Regions from separate parts of the Homo sapiens genome. Here region 2 is linked to region 1. Evidence: fine-mapped expression QTL. A gene starts in region 1. The other region holds a variant in brackets. All regions are shown on one strand. Distances are between the middles of the regions.

What was found. PIP is the estimated chance that this variant, and not a neighbour inherited with it, causes the effect.
Region 2: its variant is fine-mapped to the expression of NPAT in cerebellum (GTEx, PIP 0.97).

Annotation. Positions count from the first base shown.
Region 1 is chr11:108,211,212-108,227,128 of GRCh38, reverse strand. It overlaps NPAT (nuclear protein, coactivator of histone transcription), which reads left to right and starts at 4,491. Exons shown (of 18, transcript NM_002519.3): 1 at 4,491-4,629. The coding sequence starts at 4,593. ATM (ATM serine/threonine kinase) reads right to left here and starts at 4,062. Exons shown (of 63, transcript NM_000051.4): 1 at 3,943-4,062. RefSeq lists enhancers at 1,560-1,679, 3,176-3,225, 3,576-3,655, 3,966-4,125, 4,536-4,595 and 2 more and a cis regulatory region at 8,705.
Region 2 is chr11:108,143,728-108,159,016 of GRCh38, reverse strand. It overlaps ACAT1 (acetyl-CoA acetyltransferase 1), which reads right to left. Exons shown (of 12, transcript NM_000019.4): 10 at 14,970-15,034; 11 at 12,658-12,815; 12 at 11,414-11,747. The coding sequence ends at 11,627. NPAT (nuclear protein, coactivator of histone transcription) reads left to right here. Exons shown (of 18, transcript NM_002519.3): 18 at 1-1,802. The coding sequence ends at 75. Among named protein-coding and RNA genes, the nearest start is that of ACAT1, 30 kb to the right of the region's middle. RefSeq lists a silencer at 8,080-8,248. The variant TTTTTAA/A (reference allele first, on the strand shown) is at 11,454.

The DNA.
Region 1 (15,917 bases):
GCAGGAGAATCGCTTGAATCTGGGAGGCAGAGCTTTCAGTGAGCCAAGATCGAGCCACTGTACTCCAGCCTGGGCAACAGAGGAAGGCTCTGCGGGGCGGGAGATGGGGGAAGTATATTTACTTTTTATTACTCTGAGACCAAAGAAACATGACATTTAAATTGAGACATGAAAGATGAATAGAAAACAGCCAGGTAAATAAGGAAATGAGCACTCAAGGATTTAACATTGACAATGAACTATTTAAAAGCACTCTTGGCCAGGCGTGGTAGTGTGCTCTTGTAGTCCCAGCTACTCAGGAGGCTGAGGTAGGAGAATCGCTTGAACCCAGGAGGCAGAGGTTGCAGTGAGCGGAGATCGCGCCACTGCACTCCAGCCTGGTGACAGAGCAAGACTCCGTCTCAAAGAAAAAAAAAAAAGCACTCTTGCTTATATGGAGAGACATGTCATTTTGCTGAGCCAAAGGCTTAAAACATGCTTTGGAGCTGATAAGTAGGAGGTTATCAGAGCTAGTAAGCTTTGTCTACCACTTCCATCTCAACTGGTATTAAGGTTCTTATTTAACACATAACAATAGGAGTAAAATGACATTTCTGTTTTAAAAGGAAATGAAGCAAATTCTATGCTATGGTGGTATCCTTTGCAAATATCAAGGATCAACTATATTTTACTATGCCTTGATTCCACTGAGTAGCTCTCTTCTTTTGGGGGCTTCTGATATAATCAAACTCTCTTTTGATGTCCTTCAAAAAAATGTAGTAAGAACAGCATTTCAACATGGACACAAAGATGGGAAGAACAGAGACTGGGGACTGTTTGAGGGTTGGAAAGAAAGGGAGGTATGGCTTGAAGGGCTACCTATCAGGTACTATGCTCACTACCTGAGTGACAGGATCATTCGTACACCAAGCCTCAGCAACATGCAATTTACCCATGTAACAAACCCGCACATCTACCCACAGAACCTAAAGTAAAATAGAAAAGAAAAAAAAAGAAACAGCATTCTGTTTTACTAGTTCTGATCTAAACCTTTATATAATACAAAGAAGTTTTTTATTAAACTATGAATGTCTGTAAACAGAGAAAAAATACATATATTTATGTATATTATACCTACAAATAACTATATCTCAAGAAGTAAAAAGGTAGGGAAAGTCCTTCTCCTATCCATCCATCTAAATTCTACTTAATCTTTCAAGATTAAGTATGTTTCTCTGCCCCGATTCAATCTCACAGAATCTCAAAATTGGGAGGAACTAAAAGACCAGGTCCAATCTTCCTATGAAGGAAGGAATGTCTCTTACAAAATGAATGCCCTGTCTTTGAATATTCTCAGTAAGAGCTGACTACCGGGGCTAGGCGTGGTGGCTCATGCCTGTAATCCCAGCACTCTGGGAGGCCGAGGTGGGCGTTCCACGAGGTCAGGAGTTCGAGACCAGCCAGCCTGGCCAACATCGTGAAACCCCGTCTCTACTAAAAATACAAAAATTAACCAGGTGTGGTAGCATGTGCCTGCAATCCTAGCTACTGGGGAGACTGAGGTAGGAGACTCACTTGAACCCAGGAGGCGGAAAGTGCAGTTAGCTGAGATCACGCAATTGCACTCCAGCATGGGCGACAGAGCGAGACTGTCTCAAAACAAAACAAGACAAAAAAAACAAAAAGAGCTGACTACCCATTTTATTAGCAGATGGCTCTGATTCTCTTCTCCTTTTATATTCACTGGTGGTTCTTCTGACTTCCCCCATCCCCCAACACTATTACAACTTCCGCTTTACTCTGCTATAGATTACAGATTGTTATTTGAGTTCTTTTCATTTGATTATATACTTCCTGTGGACAAGTATTATCATTTTTGTTTTTCCATTCCTTATGGTTTTATCTAGGAATCTTCTTACTTCTTCAATCTCAGTTTAAAGCCCTCTTGAGTCAATAAGGAAAATGAAACTGGTAATCTAACCAATGAAAATACCTTAGCAATATCCAAAGAACCATAAGGTTTGGCACCTTTATTCCTAAATATACTAAAGATTTGACACTTCCCGGAAGAGGCAGCCCTAAACTTGACTTTTTTTTCCCCATGGTGTGACTTCCTTGAACTTGTTTTTCTTACCTTCAGCTTAATGATTACTTTGAAGAAAACAAAACAGTTCAGTATTATCTACATAAACAGAAGATGCTCATTCACTGATAGATGCAAACAATATTTACTACTTATAGCTAGACAAATAATGAACTAAACAGATACAAATCCTACCCTCATGAAGTCATATCTGGGCAGCAGGGTGACAATAAACAAGTAAATTGATAAACCAATGCATAATTCCAAATTGTGATGTATGCCTCTGAGGAAACAAAAACACAGTAATAGAAAATAACTGTAGAGAGAATCATTTTAGATAAACTGTCAGGGAACATATATCTCAGAGGAGTTTATAATAAAGCCAAGATCTGAACTAACTGGTGCCAATCAAAAAAAGGGCTAGAGGACCAACACTTCAGGGAAGGAGACTAGCATAGCCAAAGGGTTCTACAATGTTAAAGAACACAGTATGTTGGCGGAACTGAAAGAAGGCAGAGGAACTATTAGGTAGTCAACTAGAGTATGAGTGTCACCATATAAAGATGAACTTCATTTATACATTAATCCAGAATATCTAGGTTCCACTCAAGGTTCAAACGAAAAGATAAGGATTTCCTACTTCCTACGAGCCTCTGAATTGACGAATTCAGTGTTCCTTTTTAGATCTCAACCAAGTTGACCCCTTTGCACAACTTGACAATGACGCTTATATCCCATCTTCCTAGAAATAACTCTGCCCTTGGCATGCCATTCTTTTCTAGTGCTAAGGAGTGTGGCCTCTGTAGTCAGATTGTATTAGTTCAAATCCTGGTTCAGCCACTTACAAACTGTATAATCTAGAGCAAGTTCACTAATCTCTTCAAACCTCAGTTTCTCAATGATAAAAGGAAAAACAATACTAGTACCTACCTCTATGAGTCCCTTTAAGGACCCATATACATGCTTACAGTGCCTGAAACACAGCAAATGTTAGCAATGATCATATTAACTTCCGTTATGACTGTTTCGAAAGTCTCCTGATATCTCTTCTTCCGCTCATACCTCAAAAACAGCTTTGTTTTCTTGGTCTCATCCATTCCTATGACTTCAGCAGCTGAAAACCCACAAAATATATTTCATTCAATGCCAGGCCTCACGCTGGAGCTTCAGGGTCCTTCTACACTTTGTGCCTTTACACGCATTTTTCCTTCCATCTGGAAGGCTTCTACCATCTGCCAAGGTAACACTGCGAGGTCTCACCACAAACTGAATTGATAGTCTCAGGCTGAGTTTGCAGAGAACCAAAGTCACTCCTCTACCATCAGAGTACTCCCCTATCACCACATACATTATCATCCACTGTAGTTGTCTTATCTGTACCTGGTAAATACAGCAGCTAACGCTCACGAGTGCTCACCACAGGTCAAGATTATCTCACTTATCTTCACAAGACAGTAGAGAGCGGCCACACGACTGACAGAATTCCAATTCCAGCCGTATGATTCCAGAGCCCAAGCTCTTAACCGCGAGGCTGAAGTTGAAATATCAATAAATGCTCGCTGACTAAAAGTACTAAATACGAGAGAGAGATCAAAAGATGACTAGTCAAGTCGCGTAGTTAAATCTGAACCCTAAGGTGACACAAAAAGAGGATGCGCAGGAGGCAGGGTTCAATTCAGGGCGTTTAAAAGGAGGAGGTTATTGGCCAAGTCCGCTAAGCACCCGGAGAGAGGCCAGGAAAGATGGAGTGAGGAGAGGGAGGAGTCAAGGGCCACTCTGGAGGGGTGCATGAGATTGGCGGTCTGGGGAGAGGACAGACTGGGTCGCACACGACTGAATTTCCCAGCGCAGAAGCCGCTGCGTTGCCTCCGCGCCCCTACCACTGCACTCGGAAGGTCAAAGTAGTATCAACCGCGGCGGTGGCTGCAGCGCAGATCCCGACTCCTCTCGCCTCCTCCCGCGGCCACGGCTTCTTTTCTCCGTTAGCCACGCAGCTACCTACTCCCGCTTCCGGTTCAAACCCTGCGTGACTGCCCAGCGCCCACTTCTGGAGGAAGAAGCAACGCCAAGCAGCCGCAGAGCACGGTATGCCCATGCGCATCCAGTATCACGCGGTCTCCGCGCTCAAAACACTGCCCCAAAACATTCGGCCCGTCGGAGCAAACGCGCCTGCGCCATGTCCACCAATGGCCAGCGACTTAGCGTTTGCGGCTCGCCCTTCGGCTCGGGCTCCGGGGCTCTCACCCACCCTCTTCGCCCTCGTCGTCCTCCCCGCCCTCCTCATCCCCGCCCCTCCAAGTCTGAGGACGGAAGTGACGACAGTTCCGAAGGCGAACGGAGGCGGGTTTCATTTCGGCGCCTTTCTTTCTCTGGCGGAAGCGATTGGCTGCCGTGAAGCGAAAGAGGCGGGACAAATTGCCGCGAGTTCAGTGCCGCCACTGGAACCAGGAGATGCGGCGCAGGAGCTGTCGCTGTGTTTGCTTTAACCTGAGTCTTGTTCCTTATTGTGGTTCCTGCTGTGGTTTTGATCATGTTGTTACCCTCGGACGTAGCCCGGCTTGTATTGGGTAAGCGCGGACGCGGGATGGAGGGTTATTGGACCCGGCTATGCTGGACAGAAGGACCTTTGAGGCCAAAGGTTTTCCCTTGGTAGGGAAGCTTTGGGGTTTTGCCTCCCAGCTTACGAGTTGAGACTGGCGGTGATTCTTCGTCATTCGGAGGTTCTGGGCAGTTTAAGCCTCTTTGTATGTAGATGCTCCTCTCTTCAGAGGCTGCGTGGCGAGGGGAAGCCCGAGGGGAAGCTCGGGGTGGAACACCTGGGGCGGATTCGGAAGGAAAGTCAGGCCTCCACACTTAATTAGGACCCCTGAAAGAGCATTTGTCTGCATGACGGACGGATTGCGTGTGCTTCAACCTTGGGCGCAATTTCCTTGGTTCAGTGTTGGGACCAAAATAGGGCAAATAGGGAGTTCCCCGGCCCCCCATCTTTGTAGAGAGACCTTCCTGGCGCCCTTCTAATAACCCGCCCTTATAACTACGAATTTGGGAGTAGGGGTGATCTTCCTTCTCCATCCTCCACGCAATACGTCGTCCAGTGTAGAGGTGTGAAATGCCAGTTGCATATTTTAAAACAGCAATTCCTGTTCCTTTGATCAGCGAAAAATTTCAGAGGGTTAATTGCCTTAAATTAGTTGAACGTTTTCTAGCCCTAGTTTTACCTTCATTTGAGGAGGGATTGTTTGTGGGTCACTTGTCTGTCAGGGTGTATTGTCTGTGTGAGAGACGGGTTTTGTTGTTGTTTGTCCCCTGAAAGAATAAAGAGGATTGTACTACAGGGGACGAGAGCCAGGTAAAGCTCAAAACCCGAGCCAGTAATTTACGGACGTCGTATGCGACGTCCCTAAAAGTAAATGGCAAGCATCTGTGATGAAACCTCCCATAGTATTCACAGCCATTACTACTATTATTTTATTGTTCGGAAAACCCATTTGTCTTGTGCCTCTTTTAAATGCCCAGCGCTGTCCACAAAAATGTTATTTGCGCAGGGCTCTTGATAAGCACATTTTGCAGGAAACGTTAAACGGAAATGGTTCCACCATCCATTTTTGAAGAAACTTAATGACAAGTTTAATGTTTTGTTAATGTCTGATTAATCTTTTGCTTAAGAATTCTGAGTTTTGGCAGTTTGGTAATCTAGTTGAGTTTCGGTAACTATAGTCTTAAACATGGTTTCTCAGCCTCAGTACTGTTAACATTTTGGGCCTCATAATTCTTTATTGTGGGGAGCTATCCTGTGCTCAAACATTGTAGGATGTTTAGCAGCATTCCTGGCTTCTATTCACTAGATTACAGTAGGACACCCGTTCCCCACCCTACCCTTACCCAGTTGTGATCAGTGAAAATGTCTCTAGATATTGCTAGTATGTCCCCTGGAGGGCAGAATCACCCCTAGTTAAGAAAGCCCTAAGAAAGCAGTATCATTTTCTAATTGAAATAATTCACATCGATGTGTGAGTATTCTTTCTCCACAAACCAGCTACTCTGCTGACTTCCTGCTTTTCATTTAATGGACAAAAAACGCCAGCCATGGTTTTCTTATCTTAAAAATCTTTGTCATTCACATTCCATTTTCACTGCCACCAATCCCGCAATGTGCCTGCCATTACTTCTCTTTTGGACTTCTGTCATGGCTTCCCAGACAGTTGTCCTCGCAATTCATTTTATTTACTGTTGTTACAAATCTCCCTGAAGCTTTCACACTATACCTTTTAGTCTGAAAGTTGAGATAATTCTATTCTTACTAAAAATTTCAGATGGGCAGGAGTATACAATACAAAAAAGCCTCCCCATGCCTAATGCTCTTACTTTTGTCGTTTATCATTTTACATCTTAAATAGATACATATCGTGTATATCTTTCTCATATGAGGTTTATTATTTACTCATGATTCTTTTCCTATCAGTACCCCCTCGCCATCTTCAGCTCCTCTTGTTATTGGTCCCTTCATAATGTTTTTTTTCTAGCAAATCTTTGGGTGCCTAGTATGTTCCAAACACTGTGCCAATTGCTGAACATAGAGAAGTTAAGTTTTCTCCCCTTAGTGTTCAGATAATTAGGTTTTTTTTAAATTCTTAAACATACACACAAAAAAACACTTTTCTGGACCCCACTAGACATTAGACACCCATTAAACAGAACATTCTGTCTTATGTTCTGTGTCACCCTTTCACAAGTCAAATTTATTCAAAGAACAATGAATTCCACTTAGTTGCTGTTCTTCACCTACCTTTTATCCTTCAGGATACTGCACTCTGACTTTTGCATCTCACTACTCCACTTAAGTAGCCCTTATTGCCTTGCTGGGATTTTACAAAATGTTGTGTGGGCCAGAATACATCAAAGTGTTTGTTGCCTCTGGGCCATCAGTTCAGTTTTTATCTATTTATTCAAGGTGCTCTGTGGAACTGATCCTACCTACCTCTCCAACTTGATCTCAACTTCCTAACATCTGTTTTATGCTGCAGACATGCCAAACGAATTGAAGTTTCTTTGAAAATTCTTGTATGTATTCTACTTCTCTTTGTCTTCCTAGTACACTTCTATTCAAGGTTCAGGTCATGCCTGATCTCTGAAACTTCATTCAGCAAGTACAGTCAGTACTTCTTAAATGTTGCCATAGCATTGTACTTCTGTTACAACCTTATCATGTCTCATTGTAGATGTGTGTTTACTTTTTTTTGATAAAATATACTAACAAAATTCAACACTTAAAAATGTATAGTTCTTAAAGCCCAAAACAATGAGTTTGTTGTTGTTGTTGTTGTTGTTGTTGTTTGTTTTTAATGTACAGATCAGTAGTGTTAACTATATTGACATTTTTCTGCAACCATCACTACCATCAGTTTCTGGAACTTTTTCATCTTCCCAATTTGAAACTTACTTGGTTTTTTGTTTTATTAGTAGTCTTAGTCATGGATGAATGGACAAGCTTCAAGAGTTCTGGGAGTCCCCAAAACTATCATCTGTGAAGGTTTTCTTGAATAGATTTGTTACCTTCTGTATGAGACAGCATGCAGTAAAAAAAGTAGAAACCATTCTGAGTATTTAACATGGAAAGATTTAATGAGAGAATTCGTTTACACTGGTGAGAGAAAAGCTAAGACGCCCAGCAGCTTACAACTAAGGCATCTCAGTGGTTAGCAACAGTAGGAAGCCACTATGCTAATGAGAAGGATAAGGAGAGAGGAAGCAATCAAGAGGCTGGTTTGACTGCGGAACGTGGAAGACTTGTCTGATGAGGGAGTGGTAGTCTTAGAGGAGACTCTACTGAGGCAGAAAGGGAATGGGGGAAAAATATGGCTGCTTCCTCCTGCCCTCCAGCCTCCCACCAGTGCTTCCTATTTACTGAGCCCAGCCAGTAGCAGGCCGACAGAAGAGCTTGGGGAACATTGCCTATATAGAGTCAAGCTTTATGTCATACAGTAGAGAGCGACAGAAGGGTCAAGAACGTGTTTGAGGTCAAACAGGACCAAAACTGACACACCCCTAACAGGTCAAGAGCTGCTGGTTCTATTCACCTTTATATCACCAAAACATAGATATTTAATAAAACATTTGCAAAAGTATGGCTCTGATTATGACACTCCTTTGTTTATTTAATAATATATGTACTCATTGCTGTCTAAAACTTTTCATGATCCTTACCCATTTTGTCTTTTCTGTTGTATCTCCAACTGTTACCCTTCATAAACCTTGTGCTGCATCCAAACTGGACATGTTCCCCAAATATGATTGCATATATACTTTCTGTCAGCTTCTTTGGGATTCCCAACCATCCTTCAGTACTCATCTGCACCTTCAAACATCACATAATTTCCAAGCTTAGTAGTGGTTTCTCCAGCCCCTCCCTTCCCATGAAGTGAGTCAGCTCTATTTTCTTACCATTTTTGCTTTGCATTACAGTTATTTGTGTATATATCTTCTATCTCCAAGTAAATTGTAACTTTATAGACAGAAACCTTGTCCCTGTTATTTGTGGATCTAGTAATATAAGACAACATAAGGTACGGCTTCCTAAGAATTATTTGCATGCTTAACGAACATTAAATTACTAATCTTTCTAGGAAATAATAAAATATGTGAAGGAGATGTTTTCACATAGCGTGCTTTACTATCTCTTGCTTGCTTTAAACCTCTCTTTTTATCTTTCCCTCTCTACAAGTAGGAAGAAAAAATACCCTTCATATAGTTAGGATCTTATCCTTTCTTCTCTTTTTCGGTTGTTTCCCCTTCAATTCATTTAGTTACTCATTACCACCTCCACTTATAATAAAAGTAGGCTGAAGATAATATTATGTTAAGAAGGAAACTCAGGCATACTTTCTTACCTATTCGGGGACCTTTGTCAGTAAGTTTACACAAAAAAATACACTTCTTTTATTCTTAAGTTGTTTTTAGGAATAAAAGGAAAAAACAGTAATAACTAATATTAGTTGTAGAATAACGATTTGTATTATACTGATAAGAGATGATTAGTGCCTAGTTTGTATTTTCTATTTTATTTATTTATTTCTTGAGACAGAATTGCACTCTTGTCATCCAGGCTGGGTGCAGCAGTGAGATCTTGGCTTACTGCAACCTCTGCCTCCCAGGTTCAAGTGATTCTCCTGCCTCAGCCTCTGAAGTAGCTGGGATTACAGGCGCTCACCACCACGCCCGGCTAATTTTTGTATTTTTAGTAGAGACTGGGTTTCACCATATTGGCCAGGCTGTTCTGGAACTCCTGACCTCAAGTGATCCATGCGCCTCGGCCTCCCAAAGTGCTGGGATTATAGCCATGAGCCACTGTGCCCAGCCAGTATTTTCATCATATTTGGATTTTCATTCATCTAACACCAGAGATTTAGAATTAATTTGTGCCTAAAATTTCCTGTTACCTGACTGAGAATTGGTTATAGTCAGATACTTAATGATGATAAATAAACATTTTGTAGGCAGATACTAATCATATATATATAGTAAGGCCTAATTTAATAGGTTCAATAGGTTCTTGAAAACTGCAACTTTAAGCAAAATGATATATAATCAAACTAATTTTACCATAGGCTAACTGATATATACAAGAATTTCTTCAGCATATTTTTGGTCACAAAAATATCACCACACTTGTAAATAAAGTCCAAAACACTTCTAATATTAAACATTGAAATACATGTAAGCTATATATACATTTAAGATGGATTAATAAAAACAAGATAATTACTTACCCAGTTAGTCCAGTTCAAGGTTGCAGGTAGCTAGAGCCTATCCCAGCAGCTTAGGGTGCAAGGCAGGAACTAACCCTGGGCAGGATGTCATTCTGTTGAAGGGAGCACTCACACGCCCACGTACACTCACTCATGCTCACACTGTAATAATTTAGACACACCAGTTAACAACGTGCACATCTTTGGAGTTTGGGAAGAAACGTGTACCTGGAGAAAACCCATGCAGGCATGGGGAAAATGTGTAAACTCCACACATACAGTGTCCTCAGCCAGAAATTGATTTTTTTCTCTCATCAGCAGTATAACAAAAACATTGAACAAAATGATGGTATTCGAGGACTTGCTATATAATGATCAGTGAACATGAGAGTAGTCAACTATTTACTACATTATTTTGGAACTTTTGGGACAAAAGTAAACCAGAATACATCAAATCTAATCTAAAATGAGAACTCAAGATTGCCAAAGTTGGGGCATGTTGTTAAGAGCAGAAGATAATGTATCCTAGATATTACTATTTTGAGATACATTATAACTTAAACACTTATTATAGAGGTAATCTAGCTTTTAACAGCCCCATCTCATGTGTGTGCTATACAGAGGTATAATGTTTTATGAAATGCCATGAATTATCTGTAATGATTCCAGGTTATGCTAGCACAAATGACAATATTTTTCTGAAAAAGGTTTACTGTGTATCACTGTATTCTGTCTGGGGCATTGTTTCTCAACCTTTATTTCATTACACAACTTTAAGGAATCTTCTTAGGCTTTTTTTTTTTCCCTGACCCTCCTCTCCTCCCCACACGAAAGTTTAATGTTTTAGTGTCATGAATATATTGTATATGTTTATATATCATGTGTATCTGTGATTTATGCATAAAAAGAGGGAGATTTTCTTCATTCCTCCCTGCCCCAGAACCAATTTTCAGCCTCTTAGGGCAGTATGACTCCTTTTGAGAATGCATGGTCTAGGGGAAAGCAAATCTACTTTAAGATAGATAAAAATCTACTGCAAATCTATAGTAGATTTTAATACCACCGTCTATCAGAAGTCCCCAAGTGACTGAAGGCATCTAGGGTGATAAGTACTTGAAACTCCACCATGAAAAGGAAGTATATTTGAGGTGTTCAATCTAAATCTTGAAGCATATGAGGAAAAAGCTCCAACTGTCCTAATTTTAAGGTGATTCTAATAGTCTGTAGAAGTTTTAAATTTTTGTGTTTACAAAAAGCTAGTAACAGCTAACTCACCTATTCCAAATATTATAACGGTCGGAAAGCCAGCCATCATAAAAATTACTTTTCAGCCAGCTAGTTTTCACAAAAAGAGAAGAAAACATTGCAGTGTATCTTTGATCTAATTAATTTCACATCTGTGGTTTGATGTTCAATGATAGGAAGATTGAAGTCATGTTATCTGAGATAAAGCTTTCTTCAGATATCCAAATGCTTTCTCCAAAACACAATGCCTTTGGTTTTTGATTTGTATATTTGTTTGTTTCTTCTTATTAGTTAGCAAGAGGTTGGAAAACAGATTCATCAACAAGTAGAGAGTGGTGAGTTGATTCCCAAATCACAGCTAGGGCATTGCCTGTAACGAGATGACCATATCCTTGCCCTTTCCTTTTTAAAACCTTAGTGTATAATGACTTTGTAGGCAACCTTATTAGGTTTTTCACCTGTTGGACCTGGTTAACGATACAGTTCCAGGTGAAGAGAGTAGAACGTTATAAAGTTGGAAGAGACGTTAGACATAATTTCTTTTTTTTATCTTTTAAATTCAGGGGTACATGTGCAGGTTTGTTATATAGGTAAACTTGTGTCATAGGGGTTTGTTGTACGTATTATTTCATCACCCAGGTGTTAAGCCTAGAACCCATTAGTTATTTTTCCTGATCCTCTACCTCCTCCCACCCTTCACCTCCAATAGGCCCCAGTGTGTGTTGTTCCCTTTATGTGCCCGTGTGTTCTCATCCTTTAGCTCCCACTTATAATTTCAGTAGCTAACAAATACTTACTGACTATTATGCCAGCACTGAGATAAGTGTACTTCAAAGGAAAATATAAGGGAATACTTATAAGTATTAAGTAATACCTATAAGGGAATATTTAATAGTAGGGAATAGGGAGTAATTATACTAAACTGTGAAGAATGAGTTGAAGATAGCTAGGTTAAGAAAAGATTAGCTGCCCAAGCAAAGGAAATAGAATAAACAATGGCCTTGAAATATAATCAATGTGTATCTGTGGGACTGAAAGACCAGTTTGGCTGGAAGCGATGGAATGGTAAAACATAGGCTGAAGAGGAAATTAGGGTACAAAGCAAGTAGAACCTCATACGACACATTAAAAATTTGAAATCATAGGCCGGGTGCAGTGGCTCACGCGTGTAATCCCAGCACTTTGGGAGGCCGAGGCGGGCAAATCACCTGAGGTCAGGAGTTCCAGACCAGCCTGGCCAACATGGCAAAACCCCATCTCTACTAAAAATATAAAAATTAGCCAGGCATGGTGGCAGGCGTCTGTAATCCCAGCTACTTGGGAGGCTGAGGCAGGAGAATCGCTTGAACCTGGGAGGCAGAGGTTGCAGTGAGCCGAGATTGCATCATTGCACTCCAGCACAGGTGACAAGAGCGGGACTCCATCTCAAAAAAAAAAAAAAAAAATTGGAATCATATTTTTTTATTGAGATATGATGCACATACTACAAAATGTAAACTTCGTTGTTTTTCAGGGTATGAAAATCCAGGATATTTATGGATTCATAATGTGCAGATATCACCAGTAATTTCAATATTTCCATCACTCCAAAGAGAATCCTTATACTATTAAGTCACTTCCAATTCCCCCTTGCCCCGTCCTCTGCCAACCACAAATCTACTTTCTGTATCTATACATGTGCCTTGCCTGGACATTGCACATAAATGAAATAGAATATTTCGCTTTTTGTGTCTGACTTTCACATAGCATAATGTTTTCAGCCTTATTCCATGTTGTAGCAGGTATTAGTACTTCATTCCTTTTTATAGCTGAATATTTCATTATATGAATATGCCATATTTTGTTTGTCCATTCATTAATGGACACTGTTATGAAAAATGCAGGCCAGCTGTAATGGCTCACCCTGTAATCCCAACACTTTGGGAGGCCAAGGCAGGAGGATTGCTTGAAGCCAGGGGAGCGAGACCAGCCTGGGCAGCATACTGAGACACCCCATCTGTACCAATAAGTAAGTAATTAGCTGGGCATTTATTTGGTGGTACATGCCTCTAGTCCTAGCTACTGGGTTGGCTGAAGTGGGAGGATCACTTCAGCCCAGGAGTTCAAGGTTATAGTGAGCTATGATTGAGCCACTCTACTTCAGCCTGGGTGACAGAGCAAGACTCTGTCTCTGAAAAAAAATAAACTGACCATAAATGTCTGGATTCCATGCTTCAGAGTTGACTAGATAAATAAGAAAGGTCTGGATTTTTTATTTTGTTCCACTAATTTCTGTGTCTAACCTCATGCCCGTACATCGTCTGGATTACTGTAGCTTTACAGTAAGTTTTGAAATTGGTAAGTGTAAGTGCTTCAACTTTTTCTTCATTTTCAAGATTATTTTGGCTATTCCAGCCCCCTTGTATTACCTTAGGAGTTTTAGGATGTTTGTCAATTTCTGCACAAAAGGCAGTTGAGATTATGATAGGAATTGTGTTGAATGTATCGGTGAATTTTGGGAGTATTGAGTTTTTAACAATATTGAACCTTTCAGTCCATGAACACAGTATGTCTTTGCGTGGATTTAGGTCTTTAATTTCCTCCAGTGACGTTTTCCAGTTTTTAGTATGCAAGTCCTTTACTTTTGTTAAACTTATTCCTAAGTATTTTATTTCTTTTGATGCTATTGTAACTAGCATTGCATTCTTAATTTTTGGTAGTTCATTGAGATTTATTGACTTTTATATATTCACTGTGTATCCTGCAACCTTGTCGAAGTCATTTATTAGCTCTAATAGTTTTTGTTTTGTTTCGTTTTGTTTTTGGGACAGAGTTTCGCTCTTGTTGCCCAGGCTGGAGTGCAATGGCGCAATCTTGGCTCACCACAACCTCTGCCTCCCGGGTTCAAGCGATTCTCCTGCCTCAGCCTCTGGAATAGCTGGGATTACAGGCATGCATCACCTTGCCCAGCTAACTTTGTATTTTTAGTAGCACCAGGGTTTCTCCATGTTGGTCAGGCTGGTCTCGAACTCCCGACCTCAGGTGATTTGCTGGCCTTGGCCTCCCAAAGTGCTGGATTATAGGCATGAGCCACCATGCCCCGCCCAGGGAGGTTTCTTAACTCCTTTTTTTTTTTTTTTTTTTTTTTTTTTGAGACAGAGTCTTGCTCTGTTGCCCAGGCTGGAGTGCAATGGCACCATCTCGGCTCATTGCAACCTCCACCTCCCTGGTTCAAGTGATTCCCCTGCCTCAGCCTCCCTAGCAGCTGGGATTAAGGTGGACACCACCATGCCTGGCTCATTTTTTTGTATTTTTAGTAGAGACGGGGTTTCACCATGTTGGCCAGACTGGTCTCGAACTCCTGACCTCAGGCAATCTGCCTGCCTTGGCCTCCCAGAGTGCTGGGATTATAGGTATGAGCCGTGGTGCCTGGCCTCTAATAGTTTTTTTGTTGTTGTTGTTGTTGTTTTTTATGGCTTCCTTAGGATTTTCTATATAAGACATGTCATCTGCAAATAGGGGTAATCTTGATTTTTTCCTTTCCAATCTGGATGCTTTTTTTTTTTTTCTTTTGAGACGGAGTCTCTCTCTGTTGCCCAGGCTAGAGTGCAGTGGCCCTATCTCAGCTCACTGCAACCTCCACCTCCCGGATTCAAGCAATTCTCCTGCCTCTGCCTCCTGAGTAGTTGGCATTACAGGCATGCACCACCACACCTGGCTAATTTTTGTATTTTTAGTAGAGACGGGGTTTCACCATGTTGAGCAGGCTGGTCTGGAACTCCTGACCTCAAATGATCCGCCCAGCTCGGCCTCCCAAAGTGCTGGGATTACAGGTGTGAGCCACTGCACCCGGCCTGGATGCTTTTTATTTCAAGTTTTTTCCTAATTGCCCTGGCTAGAGGATACATGCAATGTTGAATAGAAATGACAAGAACAGACCTTCTTACCTTTTCCCTGATCTTATGGGGAAAGGTTTGAATTTTAAACCATTGAAGATGATGTTACTTGGCTTTTTTTTTTTTTAATAGATAACTCTATGAGGTTGAGGAAATTTCTTTTTATTTCTAGTGTTTTTATCATGAAAGGGTGTTGGATTTTGTTTTTTTTGGTTTCTTTGGTAGAGTTTTGTTTTGTTTTGTTTTGCTTTTGAAACAGGTTCTTACTCTGTCATCCAGGCTGGACTGCAGTGGCATGATTATGGCCCACTGCAGCCTCAGCCTCCCAGACTAAAACTATCCTTCTACCTCACCCTCCCAAGTAACTGGAACTATAGGCACATGCCACCATACCCAGCTAAATTTTTAATTTTTTGCAGAGATGGGGGTCTCACTATATTGCCCAGATTGGTTGGATTTTGTTCAGTTCTTTTTCCATGATAATGTGACTTTCGTCTTTTACGTTAGGGATATAGTATATTACACTGATTTATTTTTATTCAACCAACCTTGCATTACTGCATTAAATCCCACTTGGTCATGGTGCATCACTGTTTTTATATGTTGCTGGACTTGATTTGCTAGTATTTTGTTAAGGATTTTTTTTTTTTTTTTTCCTGAAGACAGGGTCTCACTCTGTCACCTATTCTGGAGTGCAGTGGCCCAATCATGGCTCACTGCAGCCTTGACTTCCCAGGCTCAAGTGATCCTCTCATTTCAGCCTCCCAAGTAGCTGGGACCACAGGTGCACACCACCATGTCCAGCTAACTTTTGTATTTTTTGTAGAGATGGCATTTTTGCCATTATGCCCAGGCTGGTCTGGAACTCCTGAGCTCAAGCAATCCTCCTGCCTCGGCCTCCCACAGTGCTGGGATTACAGGCGTGAGCCACTGTGCCCACCCTGTTGAGGACTTTTATGTTCACTTTGTTTCTTTTCTTTTTTTTTTTAG
Region 2 (15,289 bases), 68 kb after region 1:
AAGAAGCTTCCCAGTTCATTTCCAGCAGGAATGGATGTAGACAAATTTTTGTTATCATTGCATTATGATGAGTAAACATTCTGGACACATAAGAACAGTAGGTGTTAAAAACTCATATCCCTTAAACTGAGTGTAGGGAATGGGATATTGACAGAATCTGAAAGCATGACCTGCACTTTCATTGTACTGAAACTTCACTTTATATCTAAATCATGCTGTTTCTGAAACAGCTTCCTAGTTTGTAAATAGACTTACTTGGTATATTTTTATTTTGGGAAAAACGTTTGCAGAAATGTAAGTAAAGCCAATCTGCAAAACTGTATAGCTTTGACAATTCCATATTGTAAATACTGTGTAAATCTTGTTGAAATAGAGGTTAAATCAACCTAATGTTCTTACACTGTGTTTTTTGACTTCTTATGATCCCTAATTCTGAGACTTACTCATCTGGAATAGTTTCTCACTTGTTTTGGAGGAAAATGATGCTTATTCTTATAAATTACCTTCAGTAACTATTCAATAAGACATTTAAATACACAATCACTAAGTACTACAAAATAATAACCACCTCAACTGATAGCAAAATATCTAATTAGAAATCAACAGTTTGATGAGTTTTTTTCCTAGAGTGAATACTACCCCTTTCTTATAATTGCTGTAAGTATTATATTTCTGGAATTTCACACTTTACCTACTCTGATCACTCTGTTCTCTTTGTTTTAAAGAGAGAATTTTGTAAACCATTTATTGAATGTTCTGATCTTTCATTTATAACTTAAGATTTTTTACAGAACTTTAAGTGGTTAGACTATTGAGCCATAAAATTTTGGTTTGTAGTAGAGATTTCTCGGTATGTACTTTTCCCCTAAATGCTGGGGATTTAAAGAATTGCACTAATTCATAGAACTCTTTACATTGTAGTGACCAATGCACATATAATTTAAATCTTGTGTTCTATGTGAGAGTTTATGTGGAGGATTATCTTCTGGTGTTGTGTCCATCATAAGATGTAAAAAGAGAAATCATAGTTTTATATTTTAGTTTCTCCTACAATGGGTATGTTAAATAACTATATCTATACTTAGATATAGTGCATTGTCTGTGTCCCTTAAAGTGTTACAAAGAGTTTCTCTCAAAAGGTCCTTAAGGAGAGTGAGAGATGAGAGAGGTGCCTTCTCTGTATTAGACTCACACACATCAGTCCAGTTGAAGAATTGGTTTAAACTTTTAAATGAGAACAGAAATTATAATTAGTACCTGACCAATTGTGCCTAGATATTAAAGTATGTTCTCTTTAGTACTTTCCGTTCAATTAAATATCAGTATATTAGGGATTTTTTTCTACAGGTGTATATTTTGTTGAAGAGTCACTTTCCTCAACCATTTTTTTGTACTGGGCCTTTAAAAAAATAAATCCATCCAACTTTAACACAACATTTCTCAGTGTAGAAATCATGTCTTCTTAATTGCTGAACCTTACTGCAAAAACTTGTGATGTAAGAAATTTGTATGGTGTGGCAGTGGTCTATTCCTAAGGAACTAAATATCATATAGTTAATGTTTATTTAACTCAGCTTGAGACTGTACTACAGTTAGGTTTGAATAAATATTTTCATTAACTTCAAAAGTTTGAATTACTTTACATTGGCAGTCTTGTTTAGAAACTGATTAAATTCCTTTGCAAGTCAGTTCTTTTTGGGAGTTTGTACAATGCTGAAAATCACAGTTTTCTTCTTATTCAATTCATAGTTGTATGTACTAAGCACTGAAAATTCATATACAAATAAAATAAGTTTACTTTCTTCAAGATTCATAGTTAACTAACCAGGAACTGCTAAGTAAAGTTGAAAGATAACTTGTACTTGGAGCTTTTATGTTCAAGAGCAAAATCATATCCCCATTTTACCTTAAAAGTCCACAGGTCCTGAACTTAATTATACTATTGTACCTGGTAACCTATTTGAATACTTAAATGCCCAGTGACTGCATTTCAGGGTTGATGTATACTACAACAATCCATGGCTGTTTTTATAATTACATATGAGGATCCAGTCTGTTGTTTGGATATTACTTAGAGGTTAATGCAGTCAGTGTATGCCAAATCTGAGAAGTGTTGTTAAGTAAAATCTTGTTACAGATTTAGCCCTGGATATATTAGAACTATAGTGTGTTGAAATTGCGCATAAGAAAAGCATCCATCAGCATTCATGCAAAGGCTACATGTCATGACTATTAGGAGTAATTTCAAAAGCATATTACTATATATTCTGCATTCATCCTTTCTCTGGTCATCATCTTTTAGGCTCAGGCCCAGCTTTCTGAAATTACATAAGTTTTGACTTTATTATTAGTTATTTTGCTGCTTCCTTTAAGCAATGGACTCATTGTGTACTTTTTTCTTTTTATAAATGTTATCATTTTGTCATACTTTTGTCTTTTTTTCGTAAATTTGTATCTACATTGTTGAACACATGGTACATATAGCTTCCTAATGCTTTTTGTTTTGTTTTTTTTTTTTTTTTTTGAGAGAGGGTCTCACTCTGTTGCAGGCTGAAGTACAGTGGCACAATCATGGCTCACTGCAGCCTCGATCTCCCAGGCTCAAGTGATCCTCCTACCTCAGCCTCCCGAGTAGCTGGGACCACAGACATATCCCATCGCACCCAGTTTTTTGGGTTTTTTTGGTTTTTTTGTTTTTTGTTTTTTGTTTTTGTCTTTCAGAGAGATGGGGTCTCACTATGTTGCCCAGGATGATATCAAACTCTTGGACTCAAGCAGTCCTCCTGCCTCGGCCTCCCAGGTGTTGGGATTACAGGCATGTGAGCCACCTCATCCAGCTGCTGCTTTTACTTCCAATAATATAAAGCTTTTTCCTTTTTTTAGCTATTACAAACAAAAACAGCAGTGAGCATTTTTATAAACATTTGTTTATGTTAACTATTTCCTTAGAAATTTTAGAGAGTAGAATTACCAAATCAAGAAGTTAGTGTACCTTTTTTTAAGGATCTCAGTACATTTTGCCATATGCTGCTATTAAACTTGCGTCAATTTACATTTCTACCAGCAAATTGTCATTTTTTTGCATAGCATATGCTTATCCATTTCCAGAGGCATATTCACCTATATCATCACCTGTTTCTAGGTTTGTGTTTCCTGATTTGGTAAAATTAGGAGTTAGCTCCTAATCCATTTGTTACTTGTTTTGGTACCTGATATGAAAAAAGGGTCAATGTACATTTTTTCCCTAAATATTTAACTGCTTGACAATTTGTTCACTTGACAATTTAACCACTGCACAGTTTGTTCAGATAAGCTTTCCTTTCCCCTGCTCATTTATTTAAGATGTCTGTCTTATCCTACACTGATTAACAATCTCTTATTCACAATTCTAAAACCCAAAAGGTTCCGGCAACCAATTTTTTTCCCCTAGATTTAACATCAGAACTCATTCTGTGGCAAACCTGACCTGAAATGACACGAGGCTACTTAACAGTCTTTATCTCATTTATAGTAATGTTGATTAGTCTGCTGTTCCAGACTCAACTGGGGGGCATATGGTGCATACATTTGAGTTATTTTTTAGAAATCCAAAATATTCTGATTTATGAACCCCAGCTAACCCCAAAGGTGTGTATGATCAAAGATTTTGGACTTGTATTAAATGTACACACATATATACACACTATATGGTATGTGTATCGTCTATTCTGTGCCACTGATTAAATCATTATAACTTTTGTGTCCACTGTTACTGTTTTTGTTTTTTCAAGTATTCACCCTTTTATGCTTCCTGGTGAACTTTAGAATCACTTGAATTATTTCAGGTTAAATTTCTATTGGAATATTTGAACTACATTAATGTCATAAGCTAATTCATAAAGAAGCAAAGGGTAACGATCATATGGTATGTATCAAAGTGTTATAGTTATCCCTATCAGAAATTTCTTGCTAAACTGGATGTTTTTGTTTGTTACTATTTTTAGAAAGCTCTTCATTTCATAGTTTTAACTGGTTATTGCTGTTATGTAGGGATGGTCTTGCTTTATTAATATAAAATTTTTATGGAGACACATAAAGAGAAAAGTGCACCACTATAAATTCATGCCCTTCAGTGAATTTTCTTTAAGTAAATACATCCACATAATCACTTTGAACATTACCAGTACCCTAGAGTAGTCATTATTGTGACTTCTGGCACCAGAGATTTAGCTTTGTTTTCCTTAACGATATCAGTGGATACATGGAGTATATAATCTGTGAGAAACACTCGTTTTGTATAATTCAGCTCAGTCATGCTCAATGCTGTGTATATATTCATTGTATTATATTACAGTTAATCCATTTTATAGATGGTAAAAGGTGCTTATTGTGAACAGACTGTGCTGTGAACATTCTTGCACATTTTTTTATGAATGCATTACACTTCTCAGTTGGATAAATACTTAGGAATAGGGTTGCTGGAACACAGTTGCATATATTCAGACATTCAGATTTTTTCATTTTCCAGAATGGTTGTAACAACTTATGCTGCACTCAACAGTATAATAAGTTCTCGATACTCTGTGTTATTTCTGATGTTAGATATTTTCATTTAGCCATTTTAGTGGTGTGTATTGGTATATGTTTTGGTTTTAATTTGGTGTTGGTTTTTTGGGTTTTGTTTTTTTTTTAATGAAGTTGAAAACCTTTTCAAATACTATTTGGGTTATCTTTTGTGGACAGTCCAAGGTTTTTGCCCATTTTAGTATTGGGTGTCTGCCTTTTTCTTACTGATTTTTACGTGTTCTTTCTGTATTCTGGATACAGGTCCTTTTTCGGATGGATGTTAGGTGTCTGAGTATTCTCCCTTGTTATTCTTCTGAAAGCGTTATGGTTCAACCTATTTCATTTTGATTTGACCATCTATCTGGAATTGATTTTCCACATTGATATACAATTAACCCACACTATTTATTACCAAAGATTATCCTTTCCCAACTACATTGCACAGTTACTTTTCTCATAAGCTGGTAAATGTGTAGGTTTGTTTCTGGACTCTATGCTGTTCCATTGGTCTGCTTTCTTTAAGATGTGCTAATAACACACTGTCTTAATTAATGTTGAAAATCTTTTTTTTTTTTTTTTTGAGATAGTCTCACTCTGTCGCCCAGGCCAGAGGGCATTGGTGTCATCTCTGGTGACTGTAACCTCCGCCTCCCAGGTTCAAGCAATTCTCCTTCCTGAGCCTCCTCAGTAGCTGGGATTACAGTTGTGCGCCACCACACCCAGTTAATTTTTGTATTTTTAGTAGAGACAGGGTTTCACCATATTGTCCAGGCTGGTCTTGAACTCCTGACCTCAGGTGATTCACCCACCTCAGCCTCCCGAGGTGCTGGGATTACAGGCGTGAGCCACTGTGCCAGTCCCAAAATCTTTTATATTTTAGTTCTATTTATTTTCTATACTGAGTGAAGTCTGTTAGTACTAATGGATTTACCAGTGCTACTTTTTAATTTGTGAAGTATTATCTGTAAATAATTATTTTCCAATTTTATTTATTTTTACTACACTGATATTAGCACTTCCAGTGCAACTAATAATGATCAAAGTCTGCTTCATTGTCTTGTTCCCCATTTTAATGGCAATGTTAGGTATAATGTTTGCTTTTATTAAGTATAATGTTTGCTTTTGTTGGTAGAGTTTTACGATTTTACATCAGAAGTACCTGTTCAACTTAATTGCCACGTTTAAGCATCAATTAAAATATTTTCATTGAACTCATGAATTTCTTTTTATATTAGTGATTATTTTAAGTAAGTTTGCTTTGTGAATATTTTATTTAAATGTTTTTGGTTTTTGTTTTTGAGACAAGGTCTTGCTATATTGCCCAGGCTAGAGTGCAGTGGCTGTTCATGGGCACAGTCATAGCCCACTATAGCCTTGAACTACTGGGCTCAAAGGATCCTCCTGCCTCAACTTCATGAGTAGCTGGGACTACAAGTGCACACCAACACACCCAATGAAAAGTTTACTTTTAATGAGATTGGTTTCAAACTTATGCCAGTTTTTAAAATGAATTTTAAACCTTTCCTTCTTTTTCTAGTTTATTTGAATATTGGGGATAATAAATAGTACCAGTGCTAAAGTGTGAAGTTTAAATTGTACAATATATGTAAAAGCACTTAGATTAATGCCTGGAACATAATAAGCACTTTAAGAACTAGTTGCTATTATAGCTGATGCTGTTTTTTATTTCTTTTTTCTGCAACAGTTTATTTAGAATGAGAAATAACTGTTCCTTGAGACTAAATCACTACTAAATTATCTAGGCCTGGAGCCTTTTGCTTAAGCAGTTTTCCATTTTTTTTTCTCCTAAATTTCTTCCTGGCTGATTATCTATTCAGGCTTTGACCTTTTTTTTCCTGAGTCAAATATCACATTTTTTTTAATTTTGGCTTTTGTTCTCTAAGATACAATTAACTTTTTTCTGTCAAAAACACTTCTTAGATTCAACAGTTGTATAGGAGCCTATTCTTTGTGCTTCCTACTTTCTCAGGGTCCTTTTTGCATGTTTATTTAACTTAAATTAATAAACAGTTATCTGATTTTTTTTTCCCCTTCTTAAACCATGTAAGCATTTAAGGCTGTGAATTTGCTTCTGATTTCAACTTTCAGCAAAATTTGGGTAAGTACTTTTAATATTCATACATAACTATTTACAATAAATGATACCAGGCTCTTTTTTGCCTAAAATTTTTATTATTGTGGTCAGGATAAGTTGCAGGTTTTATAAATGTTGCACGGGGGCTTAGAAATAGGTAATGTTGGCTGGGCATGGTGGCTCACACCTGTAATCCCAGCACTTTGGGAGGCCAAGGCAGGCAGATCACTTGAGCCCAGGAGTTCGAGACCAACCTGGGCAACATGATGAAACCCCCATCTCTACCAAAAATTAGCCAGGCATGGTAGTATGCACCTGTGGTCCTAGCTACCAGGGAGGCTGAGGTGGGTGTATCACTTGAGCCCAGGAAGTCAAGGCTGCAGTGAGATGAGACCATGCCACTGCACTACAACCTGGGCAACAGAGCAAGACCCTATCTCAAAAAAAAAGTTAAAAAAGAAATAGGTATTGTTTAGAAAGGTAAAGTTTGATATGTATTCAGTCTTATACTGTTTGAATCCTGTCTTTGCTTTAATACTTTTTTCACAAGTGTTTGTTTAATCCATGAAACATTATTATCTTGGTCATAGCTTTGGCTTTTTTTCTGCCAAAAAAAAAAGTACAAAGTAGACCATCATAAAAAGTAGTTCTTTCCCCATTTTAACAGTTTCTGCCTTCTCATAATTTATGATACATGCAACCCTTTTTACTTTTTTTTTTTTTTTTTTTTTTTTTTTTTTTTTTTGAGACAGAGTTTCGCTCTTGTTGCCCAGGCTAGAGTGCAGTGGCATGATCTCAGCTCACCACAACCTCCACCTCCCTGGCCCAAACGATTCTCCTGCCTCAGCCTCCCACGTAGCTGGGATTACGGGTATGCACGACCACGCCCGGCTAATTTTGTACTTTTAGTAGAGACGGGTTTTCTCCATGTTGGCCAAGCTGGTCTTCGAACTCCTGACCTCAGATGATCCACCTGCCTCGGCCTCCAAAAATGCTGGGATTACAGGCGTGAGCCACCTCGCCCAGCCTCTTTTTACTTTATTATTGGATTTTAAAGCTGTTGTCTTATAGTAACTTAAGATATGGAACTGTAACCATAACAGGTCCATTGCCCATTGTGCATGACAAGTCAGTATGTAAGACCCTGGGCTGCAGCAAAGAAAGATGTTTAATTGCAGGGCCACCGAATGAGGAGACTGGAGGAAACTTCAAATCTCTCCCCGAGGGTTTAGGAAGTGGGCCAAGGTGCAGCCTGTTTAGTGCCTAGTTATAACTATATTTCTGTCCAGGACCCAGCATGCAATTCTTGTAAGTCCCGTGAGGGCAGTCTCAGAACTTGTCCTACTAGCGTTTACCTTTATTTAGCAGATAAAGATAACATGTTACCGATATTTCACCATGTAAAGGCCAAGGGAAACCAGGAGGTAGGTGTAAAACACAAGAAAAAAAAGGAAAATACAAGGAAAAAAGGAAACTCAACATATTTTAGAATACTTCACTGAAGGTAAGTAGTGCATCCAAAGGTTGGTGATCTGGAAAACATTTGAAAAGTGCTCTGAAAATTCTGGGGAAAAAATGGAAAGGAAGAGAAAAAATAGAGAACCAGAAAGTAAATGGTATTTCTTTTCTTTGTTTAAGAGACAAGGTCTCCCTCTGTCCCCCAGTACAGTGGCAGGATCATTTCACTGTAACCTTGAAGTTCCCCTTGGCCCTCTGAAGGTTTGCTGGAAAATAAAGCTGTTTGCAAAAGGCAGATTAATTGGAGAAAAGGAATATACATTTATTTAATGTTGTATACATGGGGGCCTTCAGACAAAGACCTGACCCCGCCCCCAGTGGGGTGTAGAAACTTTTTTTTTTTTTTTTTTTTGAGACAGTCTCACTCTGTTGCCCAGGCTAGAGTCCAATGGTGTGATCTTGGCTCACTGCAACCTCTGCCTCCTGGGTTGAAGCGATTCTTCCACCTCAGCCTCCTGAGTTGCAGGGACTACAGGCATGCGCCACCACGACCGGCTAATTTTTGTATTTATAGTAGAGACAGGGTTTCACCATGTTGGCCAGACTGCTGTCGAACTTCTTACCTCAGGTGAGCTGCCCATCTGGGCCTCTCAAAAGTGCCAGGATTACAGACATGAGCCCCTGTGTCCGGCCAGGTGTAGGAACTTTATACCATCTTCAGGTTACAGAAGTAATGTGAGCTCCCAGCATGGCCAAAAACATGTTATTTTGGTAAATCAGGTTTTAGTGGCAACACAGGTTACGGGTAGGGAAAGGAGACCTGGCTAGGAAAGGTGGTCTTGTTAGAAGCTTTCTGAGAGAATGGATGTTAAATGTTTAAGACCTTTAAAGGTGTCAGACAGGCTCTCATTTAACCTTTTCTAGATTCCAGACAAGGGAAGTCCTGGCTGCATTAATGGAGATTCTCCATAGACGCAGATTTCTTTCAAAAAAGACAGCTTTGCAGCACCACTTCTGTTTGCTGGCCCTCTGATAGCCATCTCAAAATATGTCAAATAAATATAATTTGAGGTAAAACATTTTTATTTCCTTCAACCACTACCTTTCCTTCTTCCCCAGCCAGTCCTTAAGCAGTCATTTAAAAAATTAGAAACTTTCACCTAACTGAATTCTTAATTCTTCATTCCATGGGCTTGCCTAAACCTTTGTCATTTTTGGAGGAAACATCAGAGTACTTTATTTTCTAAACTTTTCTGTGTTTGAGACACACCTTTTAGTATCTTATTTTGTTTCATTAAAAACAGTTAGATGTCCTGTCACTTGTTTTCTTGGATTGAATGTAATAGAAATAAGAACTGTGGCTACCTATTTTTCTAACTAGATGTTAGAGGAATTTAATACATTTTCTCCAGAATGTCTTAGTATGATTTTCTGCTAATTAATTTTGCCAATAAAATATGCTCTTTAGGGCTGGGCGTGGTGGCTCATGCCTATAATCCCAGCACTTCGGGAGGCCGAGGCAGAAGGATCACCTGAAGTCAGGAGTTCGAGACCAGCCAGGCCTACATGGCAAAACTCTTCTCTCTACTGAAAATAAAATAGCTAGGTTTGGTGGCGCATGCCTGTATACTCAGGAGGCTGAGGCACGAGAATCGCTTGAACCCAGGGAGCGGAGGTTGCAGTGAGCCAAGATCGTGCCACTGCATTCCAGCCTGAGCTACGAAGCAAAACTCTGTCTCAAAAAAGAAAAAAAAAAAATGCTCTTTAAAATCTTCCCCCTTAGGACTTAAAAATCTGAGTTTTTCTATTATCTTTATGTTTTCTGTTATATTAAATTATTGCTTCAGAGTATCTTTTTTTTTTTTTTTAGGAAACACCATTTAAGCTGTGCATGGTAGCATGTGCCTATAGTCCTAACTACTCAGGAGGCTGAGGGAGGCAGATCACTTGAGAACCCAGGAGTTCAAGGTTACAGTGAGCTATGGTCATGCCACTGCACTCCAGCCCAGGCGACAGAGCAATACCTTATCTCTTTAAAACAAATTAAAAAACCTACTTACTTGATTCTCTGTTTCTTCTCTCTTTTCCATTTTTTCCCAGAATTGTCAGAGCACTTCTCAGATGTTTTCCAGATCAATGACCTTTGGATGCAATGTTAGTTTCTGCTTATCTTCAATGAAGTATTCTCATGTTTTGGGTTTCCTTTTCTCCTATATCTTATCCAGCTCCTGGTTCAGTTAGAAGTTTTTGTAAGTCGGGGCAGATAATTATTGAAAGGCATTTAACTAAAGCATAGTAAGTTAAGAACGTGGGCTCTGGAGCTTGACTAACTTGGAGTTGAATCCTAGCCAGCTTTTTGCCCTTGGAATTTATTTAGCTACTCTATGCCTCAATTTCCTTGTTTATAAAGGAGGGATAATAATGGTACCCACTCTTAGAAGTTTTTGTGACAATTAAATGAGTTTATACATATAAAGCACATAACAAGCCTCAAAAGTTGGTGATGATTACAGATGTTTTTGAAAATACTCTACTCTTCCTCTGAATCTGAAGAGCAATCTAATCTATTTCTCCCATATATTGTCATTTTGCTCCTTCAAAAGATCTACAATACATTATTTGCCAACAGATAATGTGTACACAATGACCTTTACTGCCCCCTCCTCTTCCTGAGGGGGAGTTTTCCCTCTTCAGAGCTGCAATTGAGGGTAGTGTGCATAGCCCCTGCCTGTAGCGTTTTAATTAATTAATTTTTTCCCAGATAAAATGCAATGCGAGATACTTCTGTTACAGTCTGTCCTGCTTAAGAACAGGCATTGTCGTGTATTGGAAGTGGTGATCTGTTCCCTTTTTTATATATCCATTCAGCATATCAGTTTCTACCTCCCTTCCCACTCTCTATGCTGCTATAGTAATTCAGAGCCCAAACTCCAGGGTTTTCTGCTTGACCTCCCCCAACCCTGAATGTTGAGGTTATAAGAAATTGCCCCCACTCTAGACCCTGAGGACATGGGCTTCTGTCTTGTTTCTAGTACTGCTGCACACACTGTGGTTTGAGTGATTATATGAAGCACTGCTAGTTTGTCCAGAATAGCCAACTCTTACTGTAAAGAGAAGTAATTTAATTTACCGTAATTTACTAAATGTAAATTACCTATAAAGAGCATTCACTTGACCTTTAACAATCCTCAAAAATATAAATGTGTTCTCACAAATGGAAACTTCTAGCTACTTATGTAAGTCACTAATATTACACATTGGTATTTCTACCATATTTCGATAAGTATAGACTCAGAATGCAAAAATGTATCAAACTTTTCAAGGTTACCAAGAAAAAAGCAGAAGAAGAAATTTA[TTTTTAA/A]TTTCAAAATGTTTTGGGATTTCATCATTTTGATTTTTAAAAGTTAACATAGAAAATAATAAAAAATGAAACAGCTTATCTGAATATAAGCTGACCCACAGTAGTCACACTGATTACAGCAGGCCTTCTGGTCACATAGGGTTGTCTCCTTAAATAGCAGAGGTTGTCTACAGCTTCTGAATTAGCATGGCAGAAGCACCTCCTCCTCCATTGCAAATACTGGCAAGACCGTATTCTCCTTGCTTCAAGGCATGAGTCAAATGACCAACAATCCTGGCTCCAGACATCCTAAAATTAAGAAAGCATTTACTTCTTTAATGAAGTACAGAATTTATGACTAACCAAAATGTTTCTATTCCAATTTAACTTCTTGAAAACCTTACTAGCCACTACTACTTGCTGAATTAACTACTACTATTCTAAAACTAAAACTTGGAGGACTTGTTTCAGGAAGGGTCACAGATCTTAGATCATTTTTTGAGATGGAGTCTCGCTCTGTCGCCAGGCTGGAGTGCAATGGCAGAATCTCAGCTCACTGCAACATCCACCTCCTGGGTTCAAGCGATTCTCCTGCCTCAGCCTCCCAAGTAGCTGGGACTACAGGCGTGCACCACCACACCCAGCTAATTTTCGTATTTTTAGTAGAGACAGGGTTTCGCCATGTTGGCCAGGATGGCCTCTATCTCTTGACCTCGTGATCTGTTCACCTCAGCCTCCCAAAGTGCTAGGATTACAGGCGTGAGCCACCGTGCCTGGCCAGGTCACAGATCTTTTAAAAGTACAGAACAGTATAATGGATAGAAGAGTAGAGTATAATGGAAGAGGGATGTGGGATAAACTACATATTGGGTGACTGACAGGTGCACTGAAATCAGCCCCCACCACTATAAATTCATCCATGTAACCAAAACCCACGGTACCCTAAAGCTAATGAAATAAATAGGAAGGAGAAAAAGGGGGTAAAAAGTCTAAATGTACACTTTTTCTTCTTCAGCATAAAACATTATTAGGTTTCAAATAACAGATGTGACAGGTCTCTGTTCAGTATTGGATACCATCTATCAGAAATGGTTTTTGCCTTATGAAAGATGGGTAGGAAGGAAAACTTAAGAGCAATGGGAATTATGAAGCAGTTTTAAGTTTAGCTAGAAACACAAAGGCAGCTCTTAACCTAGATATAGTTATTATTTTTACCTACCCAATTGGATGTCCCAGAGAAACAGCTCCTCCATTGATATTCACTTTTTGGGGATCAATCTCCAACATTTTAATGTTTGCTAGTACAACCAGACTAAAGGCTTCATTTACTTCCCACATTGCAATATCTTCTTTTTTCAATCCCACATCTTTAAGAACCTTAAATTTTTTAAAAGACAGATGATGTTCAAATAATTAGCAATCACAACTTACTGTCATCATTTCCTTGAAATACTACAGTTTGACATAAGTTATTTAAATATGGAAGTTCTTGGTTTCAGATGGAAGGATCTCTATTTTCAGATTTTTTTTTTTTCCAACAGTCTTGCTCTGTCTCCCAGGCTGGAGTGCAATGGCGCCATCTTGGCTCACTATAACCTCTGCCTCCCAGGTTCAAGCAGTTCTCCTGTCTCAGCCTCCTGAGTAGCTGGGATTACAGATGCCCACCACCATGCCCAGCTAATTTTTTGTATTTTTAGTAGAGACAGGGTTTCACCATGTTTGGCCAGGCTGGTCTCAAACTCCTGACCTCAGGTGATCTGCTCACTTCAGCCTCCCAAAGTGCTGGGATTACAGGCGTGAGCCACCGCACCCGGCCCATTTTCAGATTTTTAGTTGCTCATCTTATTCCATTATATCAAAGAATTTTGTTTGCATTATGTCTGTTTTGACATAGGGGACAGAAAATTTGATTTTCTTTCCACAGATATTTGAAAAGGTACATTTTCTATTTAGGGGCACATAATGCTTTATATATTCTTAAGCTCTGCTTTACTGATTGTGTGTTGCTTGGTTCTATATTCTTTTTTGTTGTTGTTGATTTATTTTGAGACAGGGTCTTGCTCTGTCACCCAGGCTGAAGTGGAATGGCACAGTCATGGCCCACTGCAGCCTTGACCTCCCAGGCTCAAGCGATCTGCCTCCCAAAGCGCTGGGATTACAGGCGAGCGCCACTGCACCCAGCCATTTCTATGTTCTTGACTGTTAATGAAAGAGGTATATTAGTTTCTAATATTAGTGATATTAATGCATCCCCTGCAGTTTCTGCTTTATAAATGTTACTGTAGGGTTATCTGGGCCACAGATATTTACATCTGTTGCAGTTTCATTGTAAGTCATTTATTTAAAATCTTACACTATATGATCTGTTTTGTTTTGGTAGTTCCTCAGCTATGCAGGAAGGTGTATTTGTGCCAGTGATTATCCCTATGCTAATACTTTTTAAAACATTACTAGTGAGTGCCCTAAAACATTACTAGTGAGTGCCCTTTTTCTTTACAGAAGAAATTTGATTGTTGTGAGCGATAATAAAATTAACGTGGAACTCTTCCTCCATCTTCCTCTCTTCTACTAGTGGACTAAGGGTAGCTTTCTAGCCTATACAGCTCAAACAGCTTCCACTGTTCCAACAACACAAAACAAAATATGGTACCCATATATAGCTATGTCTGTAGCTCTCAGAAGTTATTCTACCTTCAGAATCCAGAATTGTTTATTACCCTTGCTTTCCAACGTGATGTTACTCACTTTCAGAAGCTGCGTGTTCCTTTCATTTTCTGAGATCTGCTAGCTCTGAGCAGATCATCACTCCACTGGCCCCTTGTTTCTGATCTTCTCTATTCTTGTTTCCTACTGATTCTGCAGTTTTTTTTTTCATTGCGGGGGTTGGGGGCAGTGGGGAGAATCTGATTTTACTAAAATTCTGCAATTTTTTTTATCTGGGTGCTTACAGAAGTTTACTGTCAGGGTGAGGCCCTCTCAAAAGGAAATATTTACTTAAGATTTCTAAGAACCCTGAACCCCTAAAACTTTCTTTTCCTGTGACTGCTTAGCAATTTCCCACTGAGACTTGGATAGCCCTTACTGACAATTTGGAATATGTAGGTTTTCTGTCTCTAGTTTTACTATTTACTCTGAAGACCTGCTGCCAGCTGTTCCCTTTCAGAATGGAGTCCTCTCCTGGGGAGTGACTAGTTGCTTTCCATTCTAGATCTGGAACCATCAGCCAGCATTCCCTCCGCTTTGTGGTTACCACACCAGGTGTGTGAGTTCTGTATGATACTTACAAGTAATTCAGATGTGTAGTTTTACCTGTTCTACTGAAGATGTAGTTTGTGAGCTGTTCTTTATTTTTTTTTTTTTGTTTGTTATCCTTGTTGCTCTTACTCTTTTCAGGAGAAGACATGGGAAGATTTGAAACCAAGCTATCTCTCTGCTTTGGCAGATAACATTTAAAATCTTAAAAACTGCAACCTTGGTATAAGCAAACCAGAAGCTAGCATAATGGAGTATCGCCCCTCACTTTGTTCTCACCATAGATGCAGCATATACAGGAGCAATTGGAAAATCAATAGGTTCTACAGCAGCGTCAGCAAATGCTGTTTAAAAAAAGGGGGGGGGGGGTTGTTAAAATCTTTTTTTTTTTACTGTATAGAATATGCACAAGCCAAGTTTAGCCCATTAAATGCACATTTCCTAGCCCCTTTAATATATGTAAATATATGTCTTCCTTTTCTAGGATTCTACACTTTATAAAATTACTCCAGTAATCTAAGACACTGATTTTCATTGGGGGGGAGTTTGGGGGTATTTGCCTCTAGGAACATTGGCACCACCTAGAGATGTTTTTGGTT